2 separate regions of the Homo sapiens genome follow, and region 2 is linked to region 1. Evidence: fine-mapped expression QTL. Tissue or cell type: tibial artery. Region 1 holds a variant in brackets; the other region holds the start of a gene. All regions are shown on one strand. Distances are from middle to middle.

Region 1 (8,186 bases):
CTTTAAGCTTCAGAGGGATGCCACAAAATCATCTTCAGAGAAGTTTATGGTGCTTGTAAGGCTGAGAAAACAAGAGTCCTTAAGAAAAGCTCTGATTAAACATTGTAGAGCATTGTATTTCCTGCCTTGTAATTGTGATAGATGGTATGGTTTTGTTTTTAAACAACACCTCATCTTTGAAATGACTCTGCTGGAAACCTAGCATTTTTTTTTTTTTTTCAGAATATTTCCACTGTGTATATTAAATTGACTAAACATTCAGAAGAAGGAGCACAAATCAGACCCAGGAGAGTCTGTTGCAAAGTGTAAGTAGGAGAGAGGAGATGTTACCAATACTGAAAATACACTAAAATTCTGATGAAAGTACCAGATTCAATCCCATGCAAGCCTCTTAGGAACACTCAAACTGTTGAAAATAAAATGGAAAAAAGCGATTACACACTGGCACCAGCATCTAATTGTTTAATGAACATTACATGGCCTGGATCCTATTACTAATGTTTCTCTTCTTTGACATATGTCCACTGATGAAGGAAAGTTCTTTTTGGGTTGCAAAGTGGCTTTCAGAATTTGGACGCTCTGAAAGATAACAAACAGGCAACATCTTTTACTTCTTGCTCACAAGTAAATTTCTGGCAGTTTTTGACAGGTCATAAACACACATGAAATGCTAAACGTAGTGGGTTGTTAGATGCTTTCCTTAAAGTTGAAAAACATTTTTAAAATAAGTTTCCTTATGTCTACTTTTTTCCACATTCTCAACTCTGACATTCAAATGCACTTCACGAACCGACACGTAATAACATTTGAAAACCAAATTTGGAAAACCTTCACGAATTCAGACTTCACTCTTAGAGAATTTTCAAAGCATTCTTGAGACAAGCAAATCGAGGCTGTGAATAAGATTACTGAGAATAATGCTTACTTAAGAGAAATATTCATGTTTGTTAGATATGCACAAGCAGTTAATTACATTTGGAGTTGTGCTTGTTTAGGTCCTTTTGTGAGAGCACTGACACTGTTTAGAACTTTCTAGAAAAGCTTTCATCCATTGGTTTCTGTGACTTCACTCTTCCTTGTATTTCCAATGGGCTCCCTGGACGCATCTCCTCAAGCTCTTTTGTGGGTTTTTCTTCCTCACCCAGCTACTTCAAAGGTGGAGTTACTTAGGGTTCCATCCATAAACCTCTTCTTTTCTCACTCCACAAACTCACCCAAAGGTTTGAATTAACTATATGCAGATAATGCTCATGTTTATGTCTCCAGCCTCAATCTCTTCCTTGAGCTCCCTCATGTGTATCCTGTCTTAGTGGGTGACTCCACTATCTATTGCTAGTCTAAGCCTTAAACCTGGAATTTATGCTTAATTCCTCTCTCCCTTCCCATCATCATCCTAAATATCACTTTAAACATCCACCCTGTCTCTTCCCACTGTTGTCAACTTATTCCTGCCATCATCCTTTCTTGTCCAAATTTCTATAGCAATCTTTTAACTGATCCATCTGCTTCTAAAACCTTTCTCCTGCTAAGACCACAGAAATTTTTCTAGAATGCAAATCTGAACGTGTCACTCCTCTGCTAAAAAAACTTGTTCAGGGCCGGGCATGATGGCTCATGCCTGTAATCTCAGCACTTTGGAAAGCTGAGACGGGTGGATCACCTGAGGTCAGGAGTTCGAGACCAGCCTGGCCAACATGGTGAAACCCCGTCTCTACTAAATATACAAAAAAAAAAAAAAAAAAAATTAGCCGGGCATGCTGGTGGGTGCCTGTAATCCCAGCCACTTGGGAGGCTAAGCAGGAGAATTGCTTGAACCCAGGAGGTGGAGGTTGCAGTGAGCCGAGATCGCGCCATTGCACTCCAACCTAGGCGACAGAGTGAGACTCTGTCTCAACAACAACAACAACAACAAATTGTTCAGGACTCTCATTGCCCTCAAGATAAAGCCCACACTTCGCTTAGGCTGACAAGGGCCTTCATGATGGAGACCACATTCCACCCTCAGCATAACTCTTGCACACCAGACTGAATGCACTGTTTGCATTTTCTGTTCCATCTGATTAGAATGCCATCCCCCTCACCTCCACTCTCCCCTGGATCTATAAAGCTTTCTTCCATCTAAGATATCACCTCCCCTGGGAAGCTTCTCATCCTTCCCAAGATTGAATAAGGGACCTCTCCTATATGCTTCTATAGTACTTACATCCTATATTACCTATATCACAGCACTCAACACTCTGAATTTCAGCAGCAGCTTTATTCATCAGTTTTCTCAGATGATTGTAAAAACCTTCAAGGTATCTTCCTCATCATATCTCCAATAATCAGCTCATTCTAGATTCTTGAAAAACATTTGACAGATAGATGAATGCAGTTACTTTAAAGATCTGTTTCTCAGTTTCCTGATTCTAAATTCTGAACAGGGAGAATCTAATTTGCCCAGCTTGGGTCAGTTTCCATCCCTGGTCCAATGAGCTGAGCTAGGGGTGTGAGAGTATGGATGGAATCTCTTAGAAAGGAGTGTGGGGTTAGAAGCAATGGGTGGCATGCATAACCAAATTATACAATGTTCTTCATTGAAACAATAAAACTGCATTGTAGTTTTTAAAAGTCATATGTTATATATTTTTCATTAATTCATGAGCCTCCTTTCATTAGTTCATTATAAAAAGGTATCACTGTACCTTCATTTTAATACATAAAATAAAAATTATACAGTCACTTTTTACTTATTATTAGGGACTCATTCATCCAACTGTTCACAAATATTACTAAGTACCTACTATGTGCGAAGCTCTGTGCTAGGGACTCGGTAGATAGCAGAAAATAAAATCAAATCCCTGCTGTCATGGTGCTTGCTTTAAAAAATGTAAAACACAGATGCAGCATTTTAAATTAGAAAACTTAATATGAAAGAAGACAATAGGATGTTCTGCGGAAAATAACTGGGGGGATGTGATTCAGTTATGAGAGCCAAGGAAGGATTCCCAATCGGGGGAAAAAATTACATCAAAGCTAAGATCTGGCTTCTCTGGGAAGAATGCCTGGGATTGGAGAGTTGCGGGAGGACAAGGACGGAACTGGAGATCCCTGTGGAGTTATTATGATACTTGCAGCAAAAGACTATGACGCCTATGACTGTTGATGAATTCAGGAGATTCTGGGAGCCAGAACTGATTGCACTTTGATTGTTTCTATGTAGGGTGAATTAAAGGTGCTAAGAATAACAGTTGGGGTAGAGGTTAAGCACATGAACTCTGAAGCTAGATTGTCTGAGTTTAAATCCCAGTTCCATTAGTAAGTTATGTGACCTTGGGCAAATTACTTAACCTCACTGTGCCTTGGTTTCCTCATCTAAAAAGTGGGTGATAATAATAGTAGCTACCTTGAAGATTTGTTATGAGGATTAAACAAGTTAACATGCATAAAACATTTCAAACATTGCCTGCATGTCGGTTTACTTACAAACTGAAAAAGAGGTAAGTTTCCATGCTTCTGGCTTGAGCAATGGAGCGATACAGGTGACATTTATTGAGATGGGAAAGACTAGCAGAAAAAGAGACTTTGATGGACTGAAGATCACAGTTTAGCCTTAGATACAGGCTTGAGATTGCTCAGACCTCTTGGACATCTCTCTTTGGGCAGGAGTCTGATCTCAGAAGAGATCCCTGGGCTGGAGATGTCAATCTGTAAGACTTCCAAATACAGGCAACATTTGAAGCCCAGGGATTGGAAAGGCAAGCAAGGAAGAGTGTGTAGAGTGAGCAAAGTGTGAATACAGGGCCAAAGACTGACCATGAGAGTTCCGAAAGCCAAGTGGAGAATGAGGGGCCAACTACTGGTTTATGTGCAGTGCTGTTATGCACATGCATTAGACAAGTGGAAATAGAAACATCTGGTATAATTTGAATATAAGGAATATTCAAACAAAGGACATCCTTGTATTTCTATTTTAATGGAGCTTAAAACTCTAATTTTCTGTTTAGCCCTGTTACATTGATTTTATGGCTTCTCCTATCCCTCATTGGAATCTCTGATCCAAAGATTTAAAAGAAAGTCTGGAGAATTTGGAGATATGAGTAGTTTCATGGCTGGATCTTCAATGGCGAAGACAGAAGGTGGGGCATAAACTAGAACCAGGTGATGAAATGTCTTATAAGCTGTCATAGGAGTTTAAACTTGATAACAGTAAGGAGCCATTCAAAGTGTTAAGCAACAGTGAAGCACGATTATTTC[G/A]TATTTGAGAAAGATCTTTGTTGAACAAGGTAGAAAATGCATTGAAAAGGAGCAAATCCAGAAGCTGAGAGGCCAATGGTGCATCTGTAACAGTAACCCAGGAAAGAAAAGGCAACACAAAGGCAAAGAAAAGACAAACCAGGACTGTGGGGGAGGCCAACGGTTCCAATTTAAGTAATGACCACAGCAAGAAACAGACAGGATGAGGTGATTGACTAGTTAGAGAAGGTAAGAGAGAGGATGACGCCATGGCCTCTGCTTTTGTTCAGACTATTCTGTGCCCTTAAAATATTACATTTTTCCTAATCCATCCTTATGCTCCATGCAGCACCCTCAATGTCTTCTGTAGGGATAACCCTTTAATTTTCAAATATGTTCTCATCCTGTCTCCTGATGAATGCATGCAGTCATTAATTAGCTCAAGTGGAAAATAAAGATGCGACTTACTTCATATGCACTCTAGGTCCCAGGCCTGGGTAGAAAAAAAAATCTATTACCTAAACCACAGAAGCTAAAATCCTCCACAAAGAAGAAAATACCCCAGTGATTGATTTGGTCTCCACATCACCTGGCTTAACTAAGTATAGAAGTATTAATATGCTAGACCCTATTTATTAAAATAATTTAGCTCATCATTGTGACAGAAAGCCCATGTTTCAAACAGCAATATTTTTGTAATAAATTAGAAGTCCCTCAACAAACCCTGTTAAACCCCATGTGGATTTCCGTTAATGGGGAAGATTTCCCAGTGACCTAGCTTAACACTGCTGCTGCACATTAATTTGCTTTCCAGCTATACATAAATAAATAAGTGGCTGCCTCCTTGATGTGAGCTGGAGGACCCAGGGGAAGGCATTTTTACCTCTAGGTATCTTCCCCAGACTTCTTATGCTGTTTATAATTATCATATTCATCATTTTTTTCTTCTCTCTCTTCCCAATTTCTTTCTTCCTAGTCTCTCTTGAACCTATTCCTATCAGACTTATGCCCCCACCATTCCATCAAAACTGCTTGTCAAGGTCACCAATGACCTCCATTTTGCTAAATCCAATGGTCAGGCATCAGTCCTCATTTAACATGATCCATCAATTGCATTCAGTGCAGCAAATCACCACCTCTTCCTTGACACACATTCTTCATTTGGCATCAAGAATAACACATTATTTCCATTTTTTTCCTACCTCATTGGGCTTAGCCTTCCTTGCTGGTGTTCTCCATGGTCTCTTAGTGTTCAGAATACCTCAGGGCTCAGTTCCTAGTCCTCTTCTCTATAACTTAAACCCTTGATCGTCTCATCCCGTCTCATGGTATTAAATAACACCTTTACCCTAACAACTCTTCAGTTAGTACCTCCTGGTCTCCAGCCTTACTCAGCATCTCCACTTGGATGTTCAATAGACATCTCAAACTCAATGTGTCAAATATGGAACTCCTCATCTCCCTTCAAAAACTGTTCTACTCATAGCCTTCCTTATCTCAGTTGATAGCAACTTGATTAAGCCAGTGCTCATGCCAAAAATCTTGAAGTCATCTTTCTCTCTTTCTCTCACAATCCACATCTAATCTTGTTGATAGTGTCTGCAAGGTACACCCAGAATCCATTCTCTTCCTACCTTTCCACTGCTACCATCCTGATCCACCAACTCTTGGCTCAAAGTCACTACAATATACTCCCAGCTTCTCTTCCTGCTTATACACCCTTGTCTAGCACCAGAACCATAGCTCAAGTAATCCTTCTTAAAAAGTAATCAGTGGCATCACTTCTTTACTCAAAAACTGCAATGACACAGGGTAAAAGCCAAAGCCTTAAAAATGCCTTCAAGCTCCTACCTGGTCTGCTCCCTCCCCTGAGTTTCAACCTCATCTCGTGGTCTCCCCTGCTCACTCTGCTCCTGACCACTGGCCTCCTTGCTGTTTCTGAGACATGCCAGACAAGCTCTATGTGTGCCCTCTGCCTTGAATGCTGTCGGATACTAGAGGCCAGCCCCACCCTTCTTTCATGGCTTTGTTCAAATGCCATCTTCCCAATGCCACTTATCCTGCCATATTTCATACTGTCACTTGCCCCAGCCCCAGTGGTCCCAGCCTCCTTGCCCTGCTTTACTTTTTTCTTTTTCCATAGCACATATCACTTCCTATTATGTGATGCAATCTGCTTATTTATTAGGTTCACTATCAACTGTCATCTCTGCTGGAGTGTAAGAATCACAAAGGCAGAGGTCTTTGTTTTGTTCACTGATGTATCCTGAACACCAAGAACAGTGCCTGGAACATAGGAGGCACTCAGTAGATGCTTATTGAATTAATGTTTTAGGCTTCAATCACAAGGGGCCCTAGTATAAGGCAAATATTATTGGACAGGTGATACATTCAGCTTCAGGTTTCCAATCTGAGCCATTAACATATCTTACAAGTTTGAACGAACTACAAATGAGATGTCTTTGATCCATTTCCTTTCTAGCTCACTCCTTCAACACATTTTTCATCCCAGTGCTCTGGTCCTCTCCTCAGGACAGGGAATGGATACAGTCAATAGTGTCTGTTCAGGGTTTATCCTCCCTAGAGTAATTTGGTCCTCTTTCTCCTTATTCCCATGAAATCTGAACTGTGATCCAATTTCTCAAGACCTTAAAACTAAAAAAAATGAGAACTAGTGACCCCATTTTAAGAAATATTGCAGATTGTAAATTAAGCCAATGCTGCTGTTAAACCAGATTTAGCTCATTGACATCTAGAGGAAATACAAACGATTGCCAGAACTTTATAGCAAGAGAGAAGGATACGGTATAGTGGGAAACCCAAGCAAAGGGCTGGATTGGGAGCTCTATGTTACTAGAGGCTAACATGAATGTCCCAGAGGAGCGAAAAAGAGGGACACAAATGGAAGGAACAGATCATGGGGCACACACCTTATTTTTGCCTAAGGTGGACAACTGGGCTAATTCACCAAAGGTTTTGTGAGCCCCCCATCGTGCTGCTGGCACCTAGGATAGCCGGGTGGAGGCTTCTCCAACAATTCTAAGAAATACCCATGGAATGAGAAATGCCCAGGCAGATATGTGGCAAGCGCTATCTCCCCTGGAGCTCTTCTGGAGACCCTGGGCCACTTCCACAATGCTTTCTACACTGAGAACACTCTACACTCTCACTCTACACTGAGAACACTCATTAGGATCAACACTGAGAACACTCATTAGGATCAACTAGAGGCAGGTTGAGTTTTTATTTCACTAAGTACCCAAGCTCTTGTGCATAATTAATCCTCAAAAAACTAATTTCTTTCCCAGCACTGAATTATCCTTGGTCAAAAAGAAATCAACATGATAAATACCAGGCACATAGTGGGCATTTGACATCCTTCTTCCCATGTCTCTCGTTTTCCTCTAGTACCCACCCTCCCAACCTCCTTTGAGATGACTATTTTCCATATTTGCTTCTTTCATGGCATATCTGTATTGCTTCGTATTTGGCCCCAGATGTCAGATTGGCTTGCATTACTCCAGGCTGAATCATTTGATTTCCTGTCCATGTTCCTAACCTTTCCAGATCCTCTTGTATCATTTCTCAGTCATTCCCGCTGTTTACAATACCTCTCAATTTAAAGCCATCTGCAAATCTCATTAACAAACCACTGACTCCTTCTCCCTCACGATCATAGGACATGTTGAATGAAACAAGACCTGACAGCAATCCTCTCCTCTCCATTTGAGGCACCATTTCTCTGGGTTACTTTAACTTATTATCATTTTTATATTATATTGTTATTGCACATGTACTCCCAGCCTAGGCATATCTAATATGTGAAAATCGGGATTCATCATTTTTTGAAATTAAGTTATTCACAGGCTGGGCGCGGTGGCTCATGCCTGTAATCCCAGAACTTTGGGAGGCCGAGGAGGGTGGGTCATTTGAGGCCAGGAGTTCCAGACCAGCTTGGCCAACATGGTGAA
Region 2 (8,186 bases), 24 kb after region 1:
GCAGTGGCGTGATCTCAGCTCACTGCAACCTCCACCTCCCAGGTTCAAGCGATTCTCCTGCCTCAGCCTCCCAAGTAGCTGGGATTACAGGTGCCCACCACCACACGCAGCTAATTTTTTGTATTTTTAGTAGAGATGGGGTTTCGCCATGTTGGGCAGGTTGGTCTTGAACTTCTGGCCTCGGGTGATCTGCCCAACTCGGCCTCCCAAAGTGCTGTGATTACAGGTATGAGCCACCACACCGGCCTAAATCTTGTTTTTTTTAAGTAAAAAACTCATCTTTTGGGGAGATAAGAGGACTTGCTTTAAATAGCTGCTCACTGAATATATGTGCACAAAATACCAAAATGATTTTTAAGGGAATACTCACGTATCTCCAAAGAAAAACTGAGATGTTCCCAATCTGTTTGATAGAAGATTTAGGCACTCCTTGGCATCTCTGTATATCTAATAAGGATGAAATTATATCTCAAAAGTAGAAAAGATACTCTAAAACTACTTTTGAGGAAGGCATCTCTAGGTAAACTCAAGTCTGCATTTTATCTTGTCCTTTCTCTCTAGGGCCCTTGCTTGAAGAATAATCCATACTATACCTGTGCTTCCACTTCTCGGAGGTGGTAGAGGGGAGGCTGTCCTCTGGTCAGGAGAATCCTATTCAGTGCTCCCTTAGACATTCTTCCAGGCAGGATCAAACTCAAAGGAAAAGGAATTTGTGAAGCAAACCATGGCTTTGTCACAGTAAAGTAATTGTCACTCTCAACCCAGAATGTGTGAAGCTGCAAAAGAAGAGAAAAAACACTACAAGGATGTTCTTTTATTAAATGAAAGATCACTCAATCAACATGAGAGTTTTTCATAAATATCTTTATATGAAGTGTCTTCATACAAATTTTCCAGTTAGAATGACTCAGGATAAAACAAGATTATTTTAAATGTGTGAGTTTTGTTGACTGCTATCTTCCAAACACCCAGAACAAGGCCTGACACATAGCAGGTGTTCAATAAACATTTGTTGAATGAATGAATTACACCCAATTCTATACATGGAGCAAAAAGATCCATCTCCCACAAAGAATTTCCAACATGACATTTTATTTTACTTTGTTGTTTCACATACTAGTTGAATGCCTAACAGAATCCAGTTTCACAGTAATATGAAGGAATTAAGATTAACATATAAGTAAAATTTTCTCTTAAGACTTTTCTCATTGGTTTTTTTCTAAACAGACTATGTACATTTGCAACTAGGCTACTAAAATACTGTAATATTTAAGAACACTCACCACTGCAGGGAGAAGCTTCTCTTCGAGGAGAGCAATATAAGCCAATGTATCTGCCCCTTGTTTTGCTGAGAGTTCATAATCAGCATTATATTTCTATTAAAAAAAAATAAACCAAAGAAACTCAGAAGTCAAAGAGCAGCCCAAAGACAGTAAAACTAATCAAATCAGGATTCATATTTTTCCTTACAAATAGCAAACGTGGTATTAAAATGGGAGAAAGAGAAATACAAATCCAGTGAAACCTATTGCTTAATGCACATAAAGTTCTTAGCACAGCATCACATACACAATATGGTCAATAAATGTTACAATATTAACTACTATTATTTTCATGCTTGTTAATGACCTAGTTCAGTGCATGGCATGTAGTACAAACAAAGCAACTATTATTTTTAACAAGAAGGAAACAGTTCCAATTGGCTGTGTTTCTCCCCAAGACAAAAGAAAAAACCTTCCAATTTATAAAAGTTCAAAATGTTATTGACACAATTTTTTTAAGTACAGTATTGGCAAAACAAATAACTTATCCATTCATATAAATCTTTACATGTTTAAACATTTTGGATACATAATTCTCTACTGTTAAAACATTTAGATACATTATTCCATAAAACTGCTATTAAGAGCTTTTTAAAAATAATATAGTTGCTAGTTGGTGAGAGCTCAGGTGTCATGCCCAGCACAAAATGTGTACCAACTATGTGACAAAATACACAATCCTATCAATAAGTTTAATAGTGAAAATGGCTAATTAAATCTACTTACATACAAATTTCAATAAAATTCAAGCAAAGTTTATTAAAATATAAACTGACTACCTCTTCATATGACTTTCAAATCACAGAACTCATGCTTTAGAGCAGTGATTCTCAAATCTATTTTTACATCTTGTCCCAGGTATCTCCAATTGTCTAATGAGTTGGCAAAAAAAAATAAATAAATAAAATAAAGCCCAACATGCAGGGATCAACAATCTACCAATCTACTTCTTCAAAGTGAACCACCCACCTGTTTTCTTAAAAAGTTTAGTATTTTTGCTGGCTGAGAAACCATGTCGTCTTCAGTTGTCAAAATTGGTACATCGCCTATAATCAAAAAACAGTTTACATACAAGGACACAGTGTGATTTCCTCTGAGAGATTCCAATATCCTAAAAACTATAGCAGTTGCACATTTAGAGGGGAAAAAATGAGTAAGCTTGTCTTGGTTTTTTTGCTGTTTCACAAAGAGCGGTTCTAAAGAACATTTTCGTTTCTCATAATTTCCAGTGATTTCGCTTGCACTTTGAGGTATTACTCAGAATGATCAAACCATAAACAACACAGAGCCAAGGTCACGGTAAGAAACTAAATCCTCAATATTATAGCTATATACCTCACAGCTTTAAATGGAAGAAGAAAAAAAAGAGTGCAGAAAGGGGAGTGTAAAGGTTTACACTATACCTCTTGAACCTCTCCAGGTGTTATCTATCACATTGACTTTCAAGGGTGCACCAGAAAATTTGGCATAAGCCTGAAACAGAGTTTGCAATCAAACATTTTAGACCAAGTGCGTAATGCAAAGCTGCAGAGCAGCTTTACTTCACAGCCCCATCCCCCAAAGGCAGAAGGCGACTGATACTGAGGCCGCATCCCTCCCCGTGATCTCAAGTAGGGACGCGGGCGCCAGCCACCCGGCTTTCGAGGACTTTGCTCCCCAAAAGGTCCTGGGGATGCAGAGTAGGGAGGGCGCGCCCCTTGCTTCGGGGTTTCACTCCACCGCCCAGACAGCTTTGTGAGGCGGACAAAACTCGGAGCCAAGCGGAGAAGCCTTGATGTCGCCGCCGGCCTTCGGCGGGGGTATCGGCCAGGTTGGGACTCGTCGGTGGGAGGGAGCCCAGGGCAATGCAGCGTGCAGCGGCTCGGCCCTCCTGGACCCCGCAGCGCAGCGGGAAACTGGGGCAAGTCAGCCTGGCGCCTCCAGCCCCGCCCCTTCCTCCTGCGCCCTGGCCCGCGAGGCGGCCTCACCATCACCACCAGGGACTCGCTGTGAACCGATGGGAGTCCCCAGCCGCCTCCCCAGCAACTGAGTTCCAAGGGGGCCGCCATCTTGCGCGGGCCGACCTTTACTATCCCGGAAGTACTTTTCCTCCTAATTTCCGGCACGTGAAACGCGGGGGCGTGGCTAAGGGAGGGAAGGGTAATTTGGGGGCTCTTGAGAGATGAGAGAAACAACGACTGGAGGGATTAAGAAGAACTCTTAGGAGCAGCTTGGCCTAAAGGGTAAGAGTTGTGTGCCTTAAGTCAGACCCACCAGTAATTCTTCAAATATTAATATTTATTAGATCCCTAGAGTGTTCCAAACCCTTTGAACATTAAATCTGTGTGATGCCTAAATTAACCTGTTTGTAAAACAGGGATGACCCAGTATTTACAAGATTGTGGTATTTACAATGTCGGAGAGAAAGAACTTGGCACACAGGAGGCACTCAGTAATTGTTCAACCCCTTCTCCCATGTATGTGGCCTCTGCCTGCCTTTCCAGCCTCAACCTGTTCTCACCCTCATGTTCACTGGCACAACCCTGCTTAAAAGTTACAGTATTTCTGAACGTCAGGTAAATTGTGCCCACCTTCAGTGCTGGTCCTTCAATCTGGAATATCTTTCTTCCCTATGCAGCTGCTCCCTCAAAAATGAGCTTAACTCACCTTCCCTGTGATGTTTTTACAAAGTTAGGAGCTCTGGGTTCTTGTAGCCCCTTGTGCATATTTGAATTGTAGCTTCTCTCCCTAGCTACAGACCTTTTGCCTTTCACAGAAGAGGGCTAGCTTCATAGGTTTGGGACCTGTGCAGCCACACAAGGCTCTGTGCTTAAAAAGGCTCCTCATTTGGCTGATGCTCTTCCGTCACTGTCTTGAAATTCTTAAGTTTTGAACAAGGGGCTCTGCATTTTTATTTTGGACTGGGCCCCTCAAATCATGTAGCTCGTCATGTCTGTGGGCCTAATGAGCACAGACTAAATGTTTCTTGACGTTAAACCTGACAGTTTCTCAGAAAAACTATTAAAGAGGAAATTTTGGTCTTGGAAATGCTATGATCCAAACATATGACTGGGTCTCAGAGTTAGAACTTGGGTGCTGGGTCTTTTTTCTAGAAGGCACAGTAGTCTTTCTGGGACACCCTCGCAGTCATGCCTCTGAGTTCTTTCCTCTATTCCACTGAGATGGTCGGATCTTCTTAACTAAAACTCAAAAGAAACCTCTGCAACTTTTCGTAAAATTACTATTCAACAAATATTTGCTAGGCACTCCCTTACTGTTTACATAATCATTCAAATTACAGTGCCAGCCTGCTAAAGTCTTTTTTACATGTTTCAAAACCAAGAGTTCTAAGAAATGAAAAAGAGATATGTCAGAAATGAGAATTCATTAATAATAACTGTATAATTGGAAAATGCATAACATATGTACCATTAAAACTGTCGAAACATTTATTGAGCAGCTCCTATGTCTTAGACATCATAAGGTTCTGGAACAATACAGAAATATATAAAACATGAATTCTGTCCTCGGGAGTTTACAGTGCACAAAGGAGATATACACACACCAAGGTGTAACAAGTCAGATAATCACGAGTAGGGTTAGAAATATAAGCAAAATACTACAGAAACACAAAGGAGGGACAGTGCATCCTCTGTGTGATCAGTGGAGACTATCTGTTGAGTCTTCAGTATAAAGAAAGTAAAGTAATTCAACTTTCAGATTGTAATGGAACCTCCCTGTTTTGAGGGTTAGAAATGTCAAACCATAGACTGACAAAGGCAAGGCAGGGGGAAAGAAAATCCTAAGCCATAAAGCTGAGGGTCCATATACTACATTCAGGCATTTAAAACAATCATACAGAAAGAATGTGGATTTCCTGAGCCTTGTTTGTAGCAGGACTGAGAGGAGTGAATGAACATTCTTAGTGGACACATAACACAGTTACTCAGTTTGGCCTTCTTCCGTACTGCTGCTACTACATACAGTGATTTCATTTGCATTAAAGAGAAATTAAATCTCTTCCCTTAGTGTTGAATTGAGACAGAATAGCATGTCATTGCATCTGATGAAAGAATCCTTACACACAGGTTTATTAGTGCATAGATAATAGCAATCTTTTATTGCTGCAGTTCCTCTTGAGAGTCTGTATCTGTTAGATTGAATTTAAAAAACTCTAACATAGCTGATTGCACAAACAGGCTGAATACTGTTCCAGAGAACCACACAGAAAATTGAAGCCTTCAGAAATTATGCCTGGTATGGTTAGTTGGCTCCTGTGCCTTTTCCTGGCTGTTTTAGAGTATTGTTCAGAGTTCATCTAAATCATAACTTCAGATTCCTACCGGGAAGAATACTGTCTGCAAAACATCCATGTTTGTGTGGGATGGCCTGAATCACAGCTTTATAATGAGTATCCCAGACAGTGTTTTCCCCAAAAAAGAAATCTTATTTTTCAAAAGATGATCATTAAGAATGGTTTCATCTGGTGATAGTCATCTGAACTCAGGCAACCTGACCTTGGCATCCATACCCATCCTTCATGTGTTTCTTAACTTGGGAGCCACAGTGCAAGGTTTGTTAGGCTCTTTTTGTCTGGGTGATTAAGAATCTGGGAAATGGTGCTGTTGGGAAAGATGAAAGGTTTGTGACAAATGATGGTACAGTATATGGTCCCTTATGGGAAAATTAAATTGTAAAGTCTTAAATATCCCTTTGAACTTGAAGATTCTGTAATTTGTGTTCAGATATAAAATCCTTAAGGAGGGGAAAGAACAAACACTGAATAGAAAAAAGGAGAGCTGAGTTCTTGACTTGGCCTCTGATTAGCCATATGCGCTTGGGCCAATCATTTTACATTGATACCTCTGCTCATTCATTTATAAAGCAAAAGTTCTTTTATCTCTGAGATGCTATCATTTTATGTGTAATGAACATTTAATAATTTCTGACATTTATGGAGCAATTTCTACATGCCAGAAGTTGTTTCAAGTATCTAACATAACTTGCTTTATCTCCATAATGATTTCATGACACAGGTACCTTCCTAAGGTTAACTAACATCTTTGTGTCCCTCCTTGAAAATAGAAGAAAATATCAGTACCCATATAGCCAGTAGGTGGTAGAACCAAGATTTGAACCCAGGCAGTTTTGGCTTCAGAGTTTATACTCTTAACCACTGTGTCATACTGCCTCATGTAGCCTCCTGTGTAGTCCATTAAAAAGCCCAGTTTCACCCAAAGTGGAGATATCAATGCCATGATATTATTGTTATTATTTATGTAAATAATATTTGTTTAGTATTACACCATTAAACGAATTCATTAAGCAGCTTCTGTATGCCTAGCACACTGCAAGCCTGTCAGGGAATAAAAATTTATGTTCGCCTGTAATCCTAGCACTTTGGGAGGGAGGATCACTTGAACCCAGGAGTTCAAGACAAGCTTGGACAACATGATGAAACCTTGTCTCAACAGAAACACAAAAATTATAGCTGGGCATGATGGTGTGTGCCTATAGTCTCAGCTACTTGGGAGGCTGAGGCGGGAGGATGGCTTGAGCCCAGGAGGAGAAGATTGCAGTGAGCCGTGATTGTGCAAAAACTTATGTTCAAGCTTTTAGAGGCACAGTTGATGAAACAAGGCCCACATATTTGAACTAACTAGAGACTATTAGGAAGTACCATTTTGTCAAGAAGACAAGTCTAGTATGGTTTTAGACAAAGGCTTGAATGTACTGCAATGCTTGGCAAAGGCCTAATGAAAGAAGATGATAGCTGATCTCGAAGGGTGGGTACGTTGCATTTAGATTGGCACAGAGTAAGGCATTGCATATGGGCTGTGCTATATAAGTGAAGGCATAGAAACAGGACTGACTATGGCAAGGAATCTGAAGATGAGTAAACGAATGCTGGGTTTGGTTATAAGCTGGAGACTGCTCAGGGAGAGTATTGGTTGACTAACTTGAGAACCAGAATTGGAAGGCATGGGAATTTATAGTTTTGAGAAAGTAAAGACAAGTAAAAGTCCAAATACAATATTAGTGGATTTACATAGTCAAGGATGGGAGGTAGACAGCTATTGTTACATGGACATTATAAGAAGAAGCATTTTATAAACCCATAAACTATATTAAATAAAGTAAAAGTGTGGTGGAAAATGCTGCTGAATATTATTGGAGGAAGGTCACTTGGCACCCTTCCGCTGAGCATTTTTGATAGAGGAGGTTGTTAGAAATCCAGTGGCAAGGGATTACTGGAGAAAAGGGTATAAACGATAAGGACAGGTCTAAGAGCATGAGGAATATGACTGATAAAGGAAGAAGAGAAATGGGACAGGACTGAAAGACTCAAAGTTTTTGAAAGAGACGACATGGTGAATCTACACACATATGAGGACAAAATTGGCTATTATGAGTAAAAGTCTGAAGATGCTGGAGAGAAGAAGGATGGGATCCTAGAAATTGCCCTAAGAGTTGAGGCTGAGATCCGGAGCTTGAGCAGCGGGGCTGGCAGGCATTGAAAATGAGAGACATGCTCTCTTTCTGACACTGGAGGAAGTTTCAAGGGGAACTATGGGATGCTGAGTAGATAAATCAGTTACCTTCAAATTTCCCTATTACATTAGAAAAAAAATAAAAGTGCCTGAGAGAAAGAGATTGGGGCTTTAAAAAGACAGCTGGGCACAGTGGCTCACACCTGTAATCCCAGAATTTTGGGAGGCCAAGGCAGGCAGACCACTTGAGGATCACTTGAGGTCAGGAGTTCCAGACCAGCCTGGCCAACATGGTAAAACACAATCTCTACTAAAAAAAAAAAAAAATTAGCTGGATGTGGTGGCGCACACCTGTAATCCCAGCTACTCAGGAGGCTGAGGCAAGACAGTCGCT

The links. PIP is the estimated chance that this variant, and not a neighbour inherited with it, causes the effect.
Region 2: MTX3 starts here. The variant in region 1 is fine-mapped to the expression of MTX3 in tibial artery (GTEx, PIP above 0.99).

Annotation. Positions count from the first base shown.
Region 1 is chr5:79,963,601-79,971,786 of GRCh38, forward strand. LINC01455 (long intergenic non-protein coding RNA 1455) reads left to right here. Exons shown (of 3, transcript NR_131226.1): 3 at 3,987-4,026. The region is part of intron 2 of LOC105379048 (a long non-coding RNA gene); the gene reads left to right. Among named protein-coding and RNA genes, the nearest start is that of MTX3, 24 kb to the right of the region's middle. The variant G/A (reference allele first, on the strand shown) is at 4,237.
Region 2 is chr5:79,987,869-79,996,054 of GRCh38, forward strand. MTX3 (metaxin 3) reads right to left here and starts at 3,394. Exons shown (of 9, transcript NM_001363818.2): 1 at 3,290-3,394; 2 at 2,726-2,795; 3 at 2,292-2,368; 4 at 1,284-1,376; 5 at 594-776; 6 at 371-447. The coding sequence starts at 3,370. It also overlaps a transcript of THBS4 not described here. RefSeq lists an enhancer at 2,892-3,061.